Homo sapiens: one gene and its partners. Changing the gene in region 2 together with the main gene of any one other region gives a genetic interaction. Each region holds a gene or a part of one and is shown on either strand. Other genes may lie near its edges. The genes, in order: NDUFC1, PBRM1 and TULP2.

Evidence for each region.
Region 1: changes in PBRM1 (region 2) and NDUFC1 together harm fitness more than expected from each alone (negative genetic interaction), as found in Homo sapiens cells (one large-scale study listed by BioGRID).
Region 3: changes in PBRM1 (region 2) and TULP2 together harm fitness more than expected from each alone (negative genetic interaction), as found in Homo sapiens cells (one large-scale study listed by BioGRID).

What each region holds. Positions count from the first base shown.
Region 1 is NC_000004.12:139,295,920-139,299,571, forward strand, and holds part of NDUFC1 (NADH dehydrogenase [ubiquinone] 1 subunit C1, mitochondrial precursor), read right to left. Parts: intron 1,525-3,652; 5' UTR 1,466-1,524; intron 449-1,465; exon of another isoform or gene 413-448; intron 42-412; 5' UTR 1-41. UniProt on the Homo sapiens protein: Accessory subunit of the mitochondrial membrane respiratory chain NADH dehydrogenase (Complex I), that is believed not to be involved in catalysis. Complex I functions in the transfer of electrons from NADH to the respiratory chain.
Region 2 is NC_000003.12:52,609,274-52,612,925, forward strand, and holds part of PBRM1 (protein polybromo-1), read right to left. Parts: intron 1,319-3,652; exon of another isoform or gene 1,261-1,318; coding exon of another isoform or gene 1,245-1,260; intron 683-1,244; coding exon 40-682; intron 1-39. UniProt on the Homo sapiens protein: Involved in transcriptional activation and repression of select genes by chromatin remodeling (alteration of DNA-nucleosome topology). Required for the stability of the SWI/SNF chromatin remodeling complex SWI/SNF-B (PBAF).
Region 3 is NC_000019.10:48,892,126-48,895,777, forward strand, and holds part of TULP2 (tubby-related protein 2), read right to left. Parts: intron 3,379-3,652; coding exon 3,241-3,378; intron 3,038-3,240; coding exon 2,873-3,037; intron 1-2,872.

The DNA of each region.
Region 1 (3,652 bases), on a different chromosome or scaffold from region 2:
GCACGGCAAGGTTCTCTAGCACCCCGGCCTCAGCCTTCTGTCTATACAGTGGAATTAGGAAGAAAATAATTAAAAGAAAAAAGAGTTTACCTATTCTCTGTCCTCTGGGGGTTTTTCACCCCATCTCTACGGCTATTCATCAAGAGGTTTATTAAAATTTTCCTACATGAGCCAGAAGAAAGAAAAGTGTCGTGCTGAATAATAACTAGCATTTGGATTGAATTCTGTGGTCCAGGCACGGTGCATTAATGTATCATATGGTTTACATTCATTGTCTTATTTCATCTTCAAAACGAGCACATATCATGCCGTGGTTATAAGCCTCAATTTACAGATGAAGCTTAAAGAAGACAGCTACTCATCCAAGGTGACATATTATATTTTACAGTTGAAAAGATCTCTTAACACTTACCACTTACACTCACGATCATACTGAAGCCTCACAAACCTGTGAAGTAGAATTAGTGCCTTAGGTAGGCTTAAGATCACACAGATGGCAGAGGTGGGATACAGTTTGAGGTCTTCTGACTCCAGATCTAGTGATCCTCATTAGCCCACCTAACAGACTTGGACCACCCTAGACCATAAGCTGTAGAATCAGCGTTCAAAGCCATTCTGCTCACCACTTTTTAGCTCTATGATTTCTAGGCAAATTACTTAACCTCTCTATACCTAAGTTTTACATCTGTAACATAAAACCTATAGGGTTGCTGAGAAGCTTAAACAAGTGTCTGGTAGTAGTAAACAATTTATTTGGTTTTGCCTATTAAAGACATCGTTCTGAGGAATAGGTTTTATCTTGCACAGTTGAGCCAGATCTTTGTACATTCAATTCAGTTCAATCTGATGTCTAAAGACCAGTAAAAATATTTATAGGTAACAGACAATACATTTTGACCCTTTAAAACTAATCCTTTAAACTTTATGTCATTAATTTTAAAACCAAAATAAATGTTAGCAAATCTCCTATATTCTCTTTAGCAATGTTATTTTAAGATCTTTTTTAACCAAAAATTATTGACCAAAAAGTCAATTAATTGCACTGTGTTTTCTGGCTCATTTTAACATGCAAATGGTGGCTAAATGGATTGCTAAATTGTGAGTCACTTTAGTTTGTAACCTAGTTTGAGCCTCCTGGACTCATGCTCAAGTAAGTAAACTACCCAATGAATGTGCTGAGCCAGTTGTTGGTTCGCCACTTATTGTCCACTCAGCAACCTGTCAGTTGTATATCCTTTCTACACCATCCGTTGGAAGCTTGTCCTGATGAAGCTTTTGCTAGTATCCAACAAGTTGAAACAGATGCTATCTTTAGTCAGAGTATTCAGAACCAGTAAGCAAATTACTAATTTCAGTACTGCTATTGAGAAAGACTGCTTTGTTCTTTTTCAGAGCTTTGGCCCTTGTATCCTTTTACTAGTGTGTATTTTGGGAAAGTGATGAAGTATAAGCACATTTTTCTCACCATATTAGAGCTGATGGGAACTGTACACTTGGAGTACCCAGCTGTATGTGAAACTGCATCTAGAAAAGAATCCTGATTAAGTAATTCCAGCTAGGAACTAATATCTATAATATTTTGTTAGAAGTTGCTTCATAACATTCATGTAAGCATCTTCAGAATTTGAACACTAAAATCTTATTTATGATCCAGGTGAAAAGAGAGAGGATTTGAGTTAGCAGCTAGAAAAGCAAAGTTTCAGTCCAAGATTTTTCCACTGGGAAAAAATCACATCTCCCAAGGAAGGTAAAAAAAGAGCAAGAATTGAAAAACAGTATAAAATGCAAAAAACAAAACAAAAAATCCCTATTTTTATTGATACAGCATGCATGAGAATACTATGAATCAAACTTAGGACTTGGGCCAGTCACAGTGGCTCAGGCCTCTAATCCTAGCACTTTGTGAGAACAAGGTAAATGGATTGCCTGAGTCCAGGAGGTCAAGACTGGCCTGTGCAACATAGGTAGATAACTATCTCTACAAAATGATTTTTTAAAAAATTAGCTGGGTGTGGTGGTGCATGTCTGTGGTTCCAGCTACTCGGGAGGCTGAGGTTGGAAGATCGCTTGGACCTGGGAGGTGAGGCTACAGTAAGCCAAGACTCTGCCACTGTACTCCAGCCTCGGTGACACAGTGAGACCCTGTCACAAAAACAAAACAAAAGAAAAAAACCAACAACCTCCCACCTCCCCACACACCAAGATGTATCTATAAGTTTTTATTTTTTAAGACTCAGCAGCTGGGCGCCCTGGCTCACGCCTGTAATCCCAGCACTTTGGGAGGCCGAGGCGGGCGGATCACCTGAGGTCGGGAGTTCAAGACCAGCCTGACCAACATGGAGAAACCCTGTCTCTACTAAAAATACAAAATTAGCCGGGCATGGTGGTGCATGCCTGTAATTCCAGCTACTCGGGAGGCTGAGGCAGGAAAATCGCTTGAACCCAGGAGGCAGAGTTGCGGTGAGCTGAGATCGCACCATTGCACTCTAGCCTGGGCGACAAGAGCGAAACTCTGTCTCAAAAAAAAAAAAAAAAAAAAAGATTCAGCAGCAGGCCGGGCGTTGGGGCTCACATCTATAATCCCAGCACTTTGGGAGGCTGCGGTGGGTGGATTGCTTAAGCCCAGGAGTTCAAGAGTAGCCTGGGCAACATTGAGAAATCCTGTCTATACACACACACAAAAAAAACCCAGAAGCAATAGCAAATTGTTAACATTTGTTAAATCTAGGTGACAAATACATGAATTTCTTTTATATTCTTTTTTTTTTTTTGGAACAAGGTCTCAGCTCTGTTGCCCAGGCCGGAGAGCAGAGGTGTCATCACAGCTCACTGCAGTCTCGACCTCTGGGGCCGAAGGAATCTTCCCACCCAAGCCCACAAAGTAGCTGGGACTACAGGCTCACAGCACCACACCTGGCAAATTTTAAAATTTTTTTGTAGAGACAGGGTCTCACTATGTTGCCCAGGTTGGTCTCAAACTTCTGGGCTCAAGCGATCTTCCTGCCTCAGCCTCCCAGTGTCGGGATTATAGGTATGAGGCATTATGCCTGGCCTATGTTTTTTTTTTTGAGATGTAGTCTCACTCTGTTGTCCAGGCTGGAGTGCAGTGGTGCGATCTTGGCTCACTGCAACCTCCACCTCCCAGGTTCAAGCGATTGTCTTGCCTCAGCCTCCTGGATAGCTGGGGTTACAGGCACGCACCACCACACCCGGCTAATTTTTGTATTTTTAGTAGAGACGGGGTTTCACCATGTTGGTCAGGCTGGTCTTGAACTCCTGACCTTGTGATCCGCCCGCCTCAGCCTCCCAAAGTGCTGGGATTACAGGTGTGAGCCACCAAGCCCAGCCTTTTTTTTTTTTTTAAATAAGATCCAAGTACTTAATAAGATGTAACAGTCTCAATAGAGAACATCTTACATATATGGAGAAATTTCACTCAACATATCCCTTTTGTAGAATTAAAGTTTGCAAGGTAAATGATTTTATTTCTTTCTTTTTGGTTAATATTTTTTAGAGTTAGCATTTGGAACATAGTGACATGCAAGCACATGGGGTAAGATGAATTAACTATCATCAGCAGCAGCAGCGGCAGCATATAGCCTTGGATATGTTAACTTTCTGAAAGCATGGCTGTTACTTACAGTATAACTCA
Region 2 (3,652 bases):
GCACATATCCTCAAAATAAAAATGGCTTTGAAAACATACCGATTCATCCTTCTTGCTCGTTCCAATACTTCAAACATATGCTCTTGAAATAAATCAAGCCGACGGTAGCGATTATTTTCAACATTCTTCCTAATTATGTCAAATGTAAGGGGTGGTTTGTTAGGAAAGTTGGGATCCACAGCAGGAATTTCTGCTAAAGAATCGCTGTAGCATCTTCCCTCATCATCCTGATGACTCATGACTGACACAAAAAGATTGTGGATAAGCTCTTGAATCAGCAAAGTCACATTTGGGACATGAGAGTCCTCATCTCCCTCCAGGTCTCTGCGTGTTTCAAGCAGGACTTTGTGTAGAACAAGAGCATCTTTGTAGATCAAAGACTCCGGCTCATTGTATGTACAGGCATTATTAAACATCATGACAAAGTCCTCAACCATAGAGTCAATATCTTGGTACTTGTTGGCCATCATGTGACTTCGAATTTTTTCCATGTCCATGGGCTTTTTAATAGTCAGATAGTAGTCAGGCAACTCAGATCTAGAGGGAAGCCTCAGAAATATGGCACTGAGGCGGCGACCCCTCTTATCAGTATAGTTCTTTACAGCTTCATAGACCTCATTTAGTTTCTGCTGCATTGGAGTCATGTATTTTGATTTTTTAGGAGAAATGCCACTCTTCCTACCTAAAGAGAGATATTTAATGTTAAATGAATAAAATAAATGAACCTAAATTTGTATACAGATGGTAGCATAACCACAAGGGACGATTCCAAGTAATTTGTAAAATCTAGCAATTAGCATGTCTATAGTGAAATATAACCTGCAGACAAAAAAGTACTAAAAATTTTTTTTAACTGTTTTCAGTAATTATATTTTTGATGGGAGACTACTGTAAGGTTGAGAAAGCTGTGAATAAGAAGGAATAAAGCAAATGAGTAGCTATGTGACATTCTATCACCTCTGGTATCCTGGAGAACTGAGATTTTCATCATGGGATAAAAAGAGATAACGGATGTTAAAACGTAGGACATTAATAATTACCTTGAGGCCTTTAATCTCAATTGAAAGTATCACTATGAACTTATGATGTAATTTATCTTTAAATATAAACATACAAACAAACACACAAATTTCCTAGCTCTGTCCACTGAAAATCGTACAAACAATGACTACCTCAGTAGCAGTATAGCCCACATTAGAGTTTTAAAATACTAATTCCAAATAGTAATGTTGAGGAGCCCTCACCTTTCAGCAGAAACATGAAAAAGGTAGGGCTCCTTGGTAAATGGCTGATTCCCAGTCTGGTATATCTTCAAACACTAGACAGTAAAGAATCTATCAATGACTTCTTACCATGACTTCATGTCAATAGAATATAGGAACCGGCTGGGCGTGGTGGCTCATGCCTGTAATCCCAACACTTTGGGAGGCCAAGGTGGGTGGATCACCTGAGGTCAGGAGTTCAAGATCAACCTGGCCAACATGGCGAAACCCTGTGTCCATTAAAAATACAAAAAATTAGCCGAGTGTGGTGGTGGCGCCTGTAATCCCAGTTACTCGGGAGGCTGAGGCAGGATAATTGCTTGAACCCAGGAGGTAGAGGTTGCAGTGAGCTGAGATCAAGCCATTACACTCTAGCCTGGGCGACAGAGCGAGACTCTGTCTCAAAAAAACAAAACAAAAAGAATACAGGAACGAGCCTGAACCAGCCTGAGTATCAATAAGGACAATAACTTCAATTACAACTCAGCCATATGTTTAAGTCTGGTAGTTCTTAATAATACGTACAAACAAACAACAAAATGGGTAAATATTGAAGGATGTTAGTAAACCAATACATATTTTGAAAACTGGTAAAGGTGAAAACAAAATAAAACAAAAATCAAGCCTTTATCCTTTCAAAAAGCAAGACACACACAAAAAAAACACTGTACCACTGGCTAATCAAATATTAGATAAGGCAAAGTTTCTCTATAGCTAATAAGGAATAAAATTAAAAACTATCACAATTTTACATCCCTTTCATGAATTAATAATTAATGAAGTATGCAACAACACCTGTTAACAGAAAGCCATAAATAGATTTCACATGTACCTGATGGAAGACCATATATTACCTATGAAGTCGGTTTTTCTGCCTAAGGGAGAGAACAGGGGATCAGACCTCAATCTGATCAAGCCTCTGGCTCCAACTACCAATTTATAGGAAATACAAAGGACAGAGGAACACATGAAAGTACAACATAGTGGGCCAGGAGCTGTGGCTCATGCCTGCAATACTAGTACTATGGGAGGCCAAGGTGGGCAGATCACTTGAGCCCAGGAGTTCAAGACCAGCCTGGCAACATAGCAAAACCCTGTCTCTACTAAAAATACAAAAAAATGAGCTGGACGTGGTGGCGTGTACCTGTAGTCCCAGCTACCCGAGAGGCTAAAGTGGAAGGACTGCTTCAGAAGGGAGGTGGAGGTGGCAATGAGCCAAAAATGTGCCACTACACTCCAGCCTGGGTGACAGAGTAAGACCCTGTCTCCACAAAACAAAACAAAACACAAAACACACAAAAAACCCCACAACATATGGATGCAATCAGCAAAACCCAGACTATGGGAAACTACAGCACAAATCTAATTTCTTCAACAGATAAATGGTAAGGGGTGGAAAAAGAGAGAGCTGGAGGGGAGTTTACAGATTAAAAGAAGTATCGGGCTGGGCATGGTGGCTCACACCTTTAATCCCAGCACTTTGGGAGGCCGAGGCGGGCAGATCACGAGGTTAGGAGTTCAAGACCAGCCTGGCCAATATGGTGAAACCCTGCCTCTACTAAAAATACACAAAAATCAGCCGGGCGTGGTGGTGCACACCTGTAGTCCCAGCTACTTGGGAGGCTGAGGCAGGACAATCACTTGAACCCAGGAGGCGGAGGTTGCAGTGAGCCGAGATCGTGCCACTGACTCCAGCCTAGGCAACAGAGCGAGATTCCGTCTCAAAAAAAAAAAAAAAAAAAAAAAAGAGGTATCAATCAGTTGCAGTATGTGGACTTTATCTGGATTCTACTTTAACCAGACACTGCCTCAAGACATGATACAACATAAGGGCAGCAAACCCCTTATAAAGTATCACCACCAAGGTGAAACTTAATCTAATCGCACCTTCAAAGTTAACTTCTATTTATAAGAAATAAGGGAAATAAAGAAAAAAGTTACAGATATCACAAGGAAGCAAGCCTGTCTAACCTAGAACTTGGGACACTGTACAGGAAAGTGACCTGATTTCTTCAATGAGTTACTGGCATGTGGAAAGAAAAGGAAGGAGACTGCTCTAGATCATGGGTTTAAGAGTATAACAATCTGCTGGGTGCGGTGGCTCATGCCTGTAATCCTAGCACTTTGGGAGGCGGAGGCGGACGGATCACTTGAGGTCAGGAGATCGAGACCAGTCTGGCCAACATGGTGAAGCCCTGTCTCTATTAAAAATACAAAAAAATTAGCTAGGCATGGTGGCGTGTCCCTGTAGTTACAGCTACCCTGCAGGCTGAGGCAGAAGAATTGGGGGAACCCAGGAGACGGAGTCTGTAGTGAGCCGAGATCGTGCCACTGCACTCCAGCCTGGGCAACAGAGTGAGAATCCGTCTCAAAAAAAAAAAAAAAAAGAG
Region 3 (3,652 bases), on a different chromosome or scaffold from region 2:
TGGAGGCCTTTCTCTCTCACTAATCCTCCTCAGCACAGACCCTTTACGGGTGTCGGGCTGGGGGACCGTCAGGTCTTTCCCTTCCCACGAGGCCATATCTCAGGCTGTCTCAGTCGGGGAAATCCTGGACAATGCCCAGGCTTCCTTGGGCAGGGGTCCCTGCAGCCTTCCACAGTGTGTTATGTTTCTGGTTAATAGAGAATGGAGAATGGCAATGACTTTCACAAAGCATACTGCCTGCAAAACCATTTTTACCAAAGCACATCCTGCCCAGCCCTAAATCCCTTAAAACTTGAGTCAATATAACACATGTTTCTGTGAGCACAGGGTTGGGACAAGAGTTGCAGATTAACAGCATCTCAAAGCAGAACAGTTTTTCTTTTTTTTTTTGGGGGGGGGACGGAGTCTTGCTCTGTCACCCAGGCTGGAGTGCAGTGGCGCGATCTCAGCTCACTGCAAGCTCTGCCTCCCGGGTTCACGCCGTTTTACTGCCTCAGCCTCCCGAATAGCTGGGACTACAGGCGCCCACCACCGCAACCGGCTAATTTTTTGTATTTTCAGTAAACGTGGGGTTTCACTGTGGTCTCGATCTCCTGACCTCGTGATCCGCCCGCCTCGGCCTCCCAAAGTGCTGGGATTACAGGCGTGAGCCACCGCGCCCAGCCAGCAGAACAGTTTTTCTTAGTACAGATCAAAATGGAGTTTCTTATGTCTTCCTTTTTCTACATAGACAAAGTAACGATCTGATCTCTCTTTCTTTTCCCCACACAGCCTAGGTGACAGAGTGAGACTCCGTCTCAAAAAAAAAAAAAATCATTAGGTGAATGAGGTGAATGAAGACACACGGTGGCTCACACCCGTAATCCCAGCACTTTGGGAAGCCAAGGTGAGAGGATCACTTGAGCCCAGGAGTTCAAGACCAGCCTAGGCAACATAGTGACACACCATCTCAAAGCAAAAGAGGCCAGGTGCATTAGCTCACGCCTGTAATCCCAGCACTTTGGGAGGCCGAGGCAGGCAGATCACAAGTTCAGGAGTTTGAGACCAGCTGTGCCAACATGGTGAAACCCTGTCTCTACTAAAAAACACAAAAAATTAGCCGAGCATGGTGGCACGCGCCTGTAACCCCAGCTACTCGGGAGGCTGAGGCAGGAGAATCGCTTGAACCCAGAAGGCAGAGGTTGCAGTGAGCTGAGATCGCGCCATTGCATTCCAGCCTGGGAGACAGAGCAAGACTCTGCCTCAAGAAAAAAAAAAAAAAAGGAATTGAAGAAAGAAGCCACATACAAAAGACCACATATGTATACGATTCCATTTGTGTGAAATGTACAGAATAGCCAAATCTAAGAAGACAGTGGAGGTTGGTGGTTGCCAAGGGCTGGGGTAAATGGAAAAGGGGTGACTGCTAATTGATGCACTATTTCTTTCTTTCTTTTTTTTTTCCTTGAGACAAAGTCTCGCTCTTTCACCCTGGCTGGAATGCAGTAGCCTGATCTCAGTTTACTGCAACCTCTGTCTCCTGGGTTCAAGCAATTCTTCCACCTCAGCCTCCCCAGCAGCTAGGATTACAGGTGCATGCCACCACGCCCAGCTAATTTTTGTATTTTTAGTAGAGACTGGGTTTCACCATGTTGGCCAGACTGGTCTTGAACTCCTGACCTCAGGTGATCCACCCACCTTTGCCTCCCAAAGTGCTGGGATTACAGGCGTGAGCCACCGCGCCCAGCCATGATGCAGGATCTCTATCTGGGGTGATACAAATGTTCTAAAATTGATTGTGGTGACGGTTGCAGAATTATATAAATATAGTTAGCTTCTCGTATCCTACAGGCTCCACATCCCCACTGCTGACCCAAAATATTCAGGAAAGAAATTGAAAAACAACAAGATGACAATAAATAACAGAACCAATTTTTTTTTTCTTTGAGACAGAGTATTGCTCTGTCACCCAGGCTGGAGTACAGTGGCATGATCTCGGCTCACTGCAACCTCGGCCTCCTGGGTTCAAGTGACTCTCTTGCCTTGGCCTCCGGAGTATCTGGGATTACAAGCCTGCACCCCCTTGCCTGGCTAATTTTTGTATTTTTAGTAGAGACATGGTTTCGTCACGTTGGCCAGGCTCGTCTCAAATTCCTGGACTGAAGTGACCAACCAGCCTCAGCCTCCCAAAGTGCTGGAATTACAGGCACTTTATTTTTAAAAATTTTTTTAAATAACATATAACAGCTATTTACGGGCCAGGCATGATGGTTTATGCCTGTAATCCCAGCACTTTGGGAGGCTGAGGTGGGTGGATCATGAGGTCAGGAGTTTAAGACCAGTCCGGCCAGCATGGTGAAACCCCATCTTTACTAAAAATACAAAAATTAGCTGGGCGTGGTGATGCGCACCTGTAGTCCCAGCTACTTGGGAGGCTGAGGCAGGAGAATAGCTTGAACCTAGGAGGCGGAGGTTGCAGTGAGCCAAGATCACGCCACTGCACTCCAGCCTAGGCGACAGAGTGAGACTCCCTCCCAACAACAACAGCAACAAATATTTACATTGCATTTATACTGTATTAGGTATTATAAGTTATCTAGAGATGACTTACAGTATATGGGGGGATGTTCATAGTTTATATGCAAATTTTACACCATTTTATATAAGGGACTTTGGCGTCTGCGGATCTTGGTATCTGTGGGGTTCCTGGAACACATCACCTGCAGATACCGAGGGGCGACCGTGTACTGGAAACCATGGAATTGTGAACTTTAAATGGGTGACTTGTATGGTTTGTGAATTATACTTCAGTGAAGCTGCTGCCTAAGAAAGGGGAAGATTTGCTGCATGAACCAGGAGATCCCAGGTTTCACCCCAATGTCCCCTAAATTACCAGGTCGTTGGTGGGCTTGCCAACCCTTGCGTCGGATTCTCGGAGACTGTTTAAAAGGTGGGGGAGAGACGGAACCATTCTCCACGGAGACTTCCTCCAATTCTGCATCGGAATTGTCTGGGAGCCAGGATAAGAAAGGGGACTGGAGACCGAGATTCCTGAACACTGAGGAAGGAAGGAGGGGAGAGTTGGATTTCTGGATGCTGCAGGAGGAGGCGGCTCAGGACCTGAACTCCTTGGTGTGAGGAAGGAGTGGGTGCGGTCCTGAGCTCCTGAGTATTTTGGACAGATGGATTGAGGCACCAGACTCCTGGGTTTTAGTGGGGACGGAGTTCTGGGGTCTAGGAGGTCGGTGGACTCGCAAATACCTGCTTCTGTCCGCGGTGTCGGGAGGCCGCGCTCGCCCCTGCCGTCTCCACCACAGCTCACGGTGCCCAGGGCACTGTGGATGCCAGAGGGCAGATGTGCCTCTGACACTTTCTTCCGGAGGAAAGGGTTCCCAAGGCCTGGGAGAAGGTTCAGCGAGCCCATGAAAACGATCTACAAATTCCGGTCCTCAACCAAAATCCACCCCGTCACTGGGCTCCCAAATATCACCCCCGCCAGGCGCCGTGGCTCACGCCTGTAATCCCAGCACTTTGGGAGGCCGAGGCAGGCGGATCACCTGAGGTCGGGAGTTCGAGACCAGCCTGACCAACATGGAGAAACACCGTCTCTACTAAAAACACAAAATTAGCCGGGCTTGGTGGCGCATGCCTGTAATCACAGCTACTCGGGAGG